Regions from separate parts of the Homo sapiens genome. Here region 2 is linked to region 1. The links come from fine-mapping of genetic effects on gene expression. A gene starts in region 1. The other region holds a variant in brackets. All regions are shown on one strand. Distances are between the middles of the regions. Region 1 holds the start of PLB1 (phospholipase B1). Region 2 has its middle 31 kb from the start of PLB1.

The links. PIP is the estimated chance that this variant, and not a neighbour inherited with it, causes the effect.
Region 2: its variant is fine-mapped to the expression of PLB1 in whole blood (TOPMed, PIP above 0.99).

What each region holds. Positions count from the first base shown.
Region 1 is chr2:28,494,997-28,497,910 of GRCh38, forward strand. PLB1 (phospholipase B1) reads left to right here and starts at 1,064. Exons shown (of 58, transcript NM_153021.5): 1 at 1,064-1,173. The coding sequence starts at 1,119.
Region 2 is chr2:28,463,879-28,466,792 of GRCh38, forward strand. No RefSeq gene overlaps it. Among named protein-coding and RNA genes, the nearest start is that of PLB1, 31 kb to the right of the region's middle. The variant A/G (reference allele first, on the strand shown) is at 1,206.

The DNA of each region.
Region 1 (2,914 bases):
GATGGAGTTGCCCAGGCTGGTTTTCAAACTCCTGGGTTCAAATAATCCTCCTTCTTTAGCCTTCCAAAGTGCTGGGATCACAGGTGTGAGCCACTGTGTCTGGCTGTGATTTTTAAATATGAGAAAAGTGGGTCAGCCAGGAGATCAGAATCTGAGGTTGGGTCATGGGAACCAGCCCTAGAGTCTTAGCTAGACCTCAGAAGTCAGGATCCCAGCCTCACACCCACAAGCATGGCCAGAAAGCAAGGATAATTTAAATATATTTGTTCCTATCAACCAAGGCAATTGTTTCTTGATATTTGTGTAAAAAATTTAAATTCTACTCTCAAGGGTATTTGTCACTCAGGCTTTAAATGCCAGCTTTGTCTGCCCAGTTTAGACCCAGCCTGCATTCCTGACTTAGTTTACCCAAAGGAAACGGCTGATTTTGTCAAACTTGGTTCCCCCTCTCTGGCTTGTATCTCTGAATTCAACATGCAGACAACAAATCTATGGTGTGCACATCCACCCAACACAACTGGCCACCCATGGGTTTGGAGATGGGGGGAACAGAACAAACCTCTCTGTGTCATGCAAACCAGGGAACCTAGCAGAGCTTCTGAGACACGGTGGGAACACGTTTCACATTTGGAGGTAGGTTTATGGTTTACATTTGTTACAAGGTACTTTTGATCTCCTGGCTTACAACTGAGAAAGCTGAGGCCACGTTAAGGGATACACCCAAGTTCCCACAGCTGTGGTTGATTTGGAATTCCGACCAGCACCTGGGATTCCCAGGCCCACGTTCTTCCCAGCAGACCCGAACACCGGCAATTTCTGGGCACCCACCATCATGGAAGGCTGTATGGAGGCAGCTATGCGGCCCTGGTCTGTCAGTGTCTATGACTAGAACATGCTACCCATCATTGACTCATCTGCCTTAAGAACTCTTCCGCCTAAGTGTTAATATTTATCATTTACAGCCCGCCACTACCCCCTTTCAAAGGTGAACACAGTAAAATTTATGACAGGTGCTCTATCAGAACACAGAGGAACATAAAAGCAGGAGGAGGTGTGATAGCCCATCCATCTGCTGGAGCAGCTCTTCCAGAGGCCCGAGTCACCTGGAGCATTCTGGCATGGGGCTGCGGCCAGGCATTTTCCTCCTGGAGCTGCTGCTGCTTCTGGGGCAAGGTAAGCGTGCCTTTTGCTCAGAGGACAACCAGTGGTTTAGCCCCGCTGGTGTCCCATGTTGCTTAGGCAATGGGTGTGTGAGAGGAGTGTGTGCTTTTGAAGAGATAAAGCACAAAGCGTACAGTTCAAGAATAAGAAGTCTGGTTTGCCTCCTGCGGAATGGGATGCAGAGGCTGCCTACACAGGGTTACATGTCCCAAAGGCTGCCGGGAGCGAGGCAGATCTTGGGACAGGAGAGAAGTGCAGTCCGGTAGCAGTACCATGGTACAAAAAAAACCCCTGGATTCTATTTGTTTGTGCTTTGTGGCTTTGGGCAAGTTCTTCCACCTCCCTGGACCTTGATTTTTTTCATCCTTAAAATGGAAATACTACTACTATGCACATTTTGATCATTACTATTACCATTTATGAGCTTTGTTTTGTTTTTGAAGGACAAAGGAAGACAGATTTCCAGATGATAAATTCTAAAAGATTGCCTACATTCTTTAGTGCTGCTAAACAGAGTGCTGAGCTTTCATTGAACTGAGTGGGCAACCAGCCAGGGCTTTCCATTCCCCCCAACATTAATGACTGTGGGTAGATTGTGCCTCTGCCACAATCCCTCTCTGCCCCTCTTCTTCCCATCATTGGCTCTCCCTTTGCTTAGGAAGGCAGAATCTTTTAAACTGAAAAGGGCCTTAAAGATCTTTCATCTTCTCCAGATGAGAGGACGGGGTCTGGAGTGAGAAGGCACTTGCCCTTGACTCCCCAGAGAGAGTGGAGGAGGCATGGGACAGAGTCCTGGGCCTGCCTAGGGTCTGAGCCCATGCTTGAGGCTTCTCTGGGGCAAGTCAGTTACCGCTCTGAGCCGTGGGGGAGAATGACGATGCTTGCTATGCCTTCTGCACAGGATGATTGTATTTCTTTGATTACTGATGAGGCCAAGGAGTGTTTTCATAGAGATTGTTTGAGTTTCTCTTTTGTGAAGTGCCTGTTGAAGTCTTTTTCCTATTGATTTTTTAGGAGTTCTCCATATATGCTGTGTACTAGCTCTTTGGAGGTTACATATATGACAAATATCTTGTTCCACTCTGAAGCTTGTCCTCCTATGGGGACTTTTGATGAGCAAAATTCTTAATTTTGTGTAAATAAATGTAGACTACCCAAATGAGGACAAACAGAGGCTACTTATTCAGAGCTCGCTGTAGCGAGACATCACTTATGTTTGGCCAAGATTCAAAGGCAGGCAGGGGAGTGGGAAAGTTTCACAGTGGAAAAAAGGGAAATCTTCAGATCTGCTCTGGTTGGAGGTTGTTGGTATCAGGGACCAGCTGACTAGAGGCACGGCATCTGAAGTTATCCAGTTGGGAGTGTATCTGGCTTTCTCTGAGGGGTCCTGAGTTGGAAGCAGAGCAAAAAATAGAGAAGATGGCAGTCATTAACCAAACCTGACCATTCTGGGCTGATTGCTGCAGAGGCTGCAGTTTGGTTCTCTGGCCTGGCCGATTGCAGACTGTGGCTCAGAGTTCTGTTATCATATGTGGTCCCACCGTTGTCCATTTGTATATTCTCTATTTTTTTTTTTTTTGAGACAGAGTCTGGCTGTGTCACCCAGGCTGGAGTGCAGTGGCTTGGTCTCAGCTTACCGCAACCTCTGCCCTCCAGGTTCAAGCAATTCCCCTGCCTCAGCCTCCTGAGTAGCTGGGATTACAGGTGCCTGCCGCCGTGCCTGGCTAATTTTTGTATTTTTAGTAGAGACAGG
Region 2 (2,914 bases), 31 kb before region 1:
CAGTTGGATGTATGCACCCGGAGCTCTGGAGATAAATCATTTAACATTTGACAGGGTATAGAAGGTATGAAGAGTCATGTGTGTGGGTAAAATCACCTAGGCCGTGAGTGTAGATGCATAAGAGAAACAGGTCCAGAACCCAGATCAGTGCACTCCAGTGTTTACACACCAGCATGATGAGGAAGAAGTAAGAATGCAGATGAGAAAGAGTGGGCAATGTCGAAAGAGGAAAACCACAAGAGCGTTGTCTTGAAGTCAAAATGAAGAAAGTATTTCAAAAAAAGACAGAGTGACCAAAGGTATCAAATGCTGTTAATGGCTTAAGTAAGATAAAGATGAAAAGTTCACTACTGGGTTTAGCAACATGAAGGTCCTTGGTGAACTGACAACAGTTTTGTTCCAGTGGAAGACTCAGAACTCACTGAAACGAAGACTTGAATCCATAAGTTTGGAGAAAGCTTTCAAGAAATTTTAACTGCCAAGAGAATAGAAAAATAGGATTGAAGCTGGAGGGGGCTATGAGGTCAAGAGAAGTTATGTTTTGATTTTCGACATTGGGAAAAATTATATCATGTTGGTATGCCAGAGGGCATAATTGAGAGGGGATCATTGATGTGTCAGGAAAGTGAGAGTTGGGCCGGGTGTGGAGGCTCACACCTGTGATCCCAGCACTTTGGGAGGCCAAGGTGGGAGGATCATTTGAGCTCAGGAGTTCAAGACCAGCCTGGGCAACACAGAGAGACCCCATCTCTAATTTAAAGGAAAAAAAAGAAAGTGAGAGTACAGAATCCTGTGCTCCAATGGAGAGCCAGCCTTAGATAGAATTGTAGGCAGCTCATTCATAGCAACTGTCAAATCCACACCATCATTTTTTGTCAGTTCCTTCAGTCTGCAGATGATATTAAAGAAACCTATTCAATAAGTTAAGCAATTCAGGAATATGGAGACAGGGGATACAGACTATGCCACTAATTCATTGCCATACCCCAGGCGATCTTATGGAAGAGGCACTAAGGGGCTGAGATGGAGGGATGGAGGGAACAGGACTGGCCATGGGGTGGACTCCAAAGACATGATGCATGCAGAAGTTCCTGGCTTCCTCCTGGGCTAGGGTGAGGAGTGTGGCCAATATGCAAGTGTCAGGATGGTGGTGGTCACGGTGGGGAGGTATGTCTGCGAATGGTGGGACACACAGACCTCATTTG[A/G]GAAAACGGATAGCAGCTTCCCGAGGAAAGTCTGGAATCTGCCTGTGCACTCTGCTGTGGCCTCTTCGACTCAGGAATGAAGCCCATCAGAGCTTGGTCCCAGGCCTGGTTGTCACCTTGCTCCCATCAGGATTGCACTTGGTTGCCATCTTGCTCCACCCCTGGCCAGATAAAATTAATCTGAGACAGGATTTGGCTCACAGAGCAGGGTTGCCCCCACTCTGTCTCTGACCTAGTGGCTTTCAAACTCGTTTTCACCAATTTTACATCGTAATTTGGTGCACATACATATATGATATATAGACTTACATAGTATTGAAACAAAACTTTAATGAAACATTTGGTCATTTAATCACTTGTGATGCGCTCTGGTATTTTCCATTTTTTTTAATGCTAGTTACAACCAACGAAACTGATTTCATGACTTCTAACCTGTAGTTGGGAAAATACCACTGTAACCACATAGATGACTTTGCTCTCGTCTGTCTCGTTCTTTCAGGGTGATGAGCAGCATAAAGATTCCAAGAAGCCTCAAACTGAGTTGATTATCTCGGTGTATCTATCTGTTCCCATAGATTAGCAAATGTGAACTTTAGAGCACATTTATGTAAATGTACTGTTGGTTTCCCTTGACCTGACCTCAAACCTGACTGACTTTTCTGCACACTGAGAGCTACAGTGCTGAGCTCACCACTTCATTCCTTTGTTCTCTCCTTATCTCATCCACTGCACCTCACATTCCATCTTTCCCCACTCAGTCCCCCTGGGAGCCCTTGAAGTTAAACTATTTGAATCATAGACTATCACAGGTGAAAGAGACTTAAGAAGTGTTTGATACAGTTATCCCTTTGGTGTAGTTCAATGATCTCCAGTCTCTGCTTGCATTTCTCCAGTGACAGAGGGCTCACTACTTAGCAAGGTAGTTTCTTTCCTTTCTTTCTTCTTTCTTTCTCTCTCTTTCTTTCTTTTCCTTCCTTCCTTCCTTCCTTCCTTCCTTCCTTCCTTCCTTCCTTCCTTCCTTCCTTCCTTCCTTCCCTCCCTCCCTCTCTCCCTCCCTCCCTCCCTTCCTCTCTCTCTCTCTCTGTCTCTCTCTTTCTTTCTTTCCTTTTGGCCAGATACAGGGCCTTGCTTTGTTGCCCAGGCTGATCTGGAACTCCTAGACTCCAGCAATCCTCCTGTCTCTGCCTGCCAAAGTGCTGGGGTGGCAGGCGTGACCCACGGCACCCAGCCTCATATTTTCAAAATATGCCAGAAAGCTGCATTTTAAAATATAAAATCATCCCATTAAAAAATGCCAACTAATTCAAAATCTTTTTTAAATTTTTCATGAGCTGACAGCCCAGGCTCACTGAAGACACCATGACACTCACATCTGCCTTCAGAGCCCAGTTCTGCGCCCGTAGTGCTGGGAGACTGAGTCTGGGCGGAGCCTGGTAACTTACCCACCCAGCTTTTACCCAGGTCTCTCCAGACGTTCTCAAGTCATTGCTGTAGCCAGGGCCAAATTCAAGAAAACAACCACATTTTCTGAAGAGCCAGAGGGAGCTGGCCTGAGTCTTGCACTAGTGGGTTTTTGTTTGTTTGTTTGTTTTTGGTAAGTGGAGAAAGCAAATGAACCTGGAATACTGTGTCAAAGAAGGCTTTGGATGGAATCCGATCCCCTACCCCGGCCAGGGTACTTACCTACTTGCTTCAGTCTTTCCTTAGCT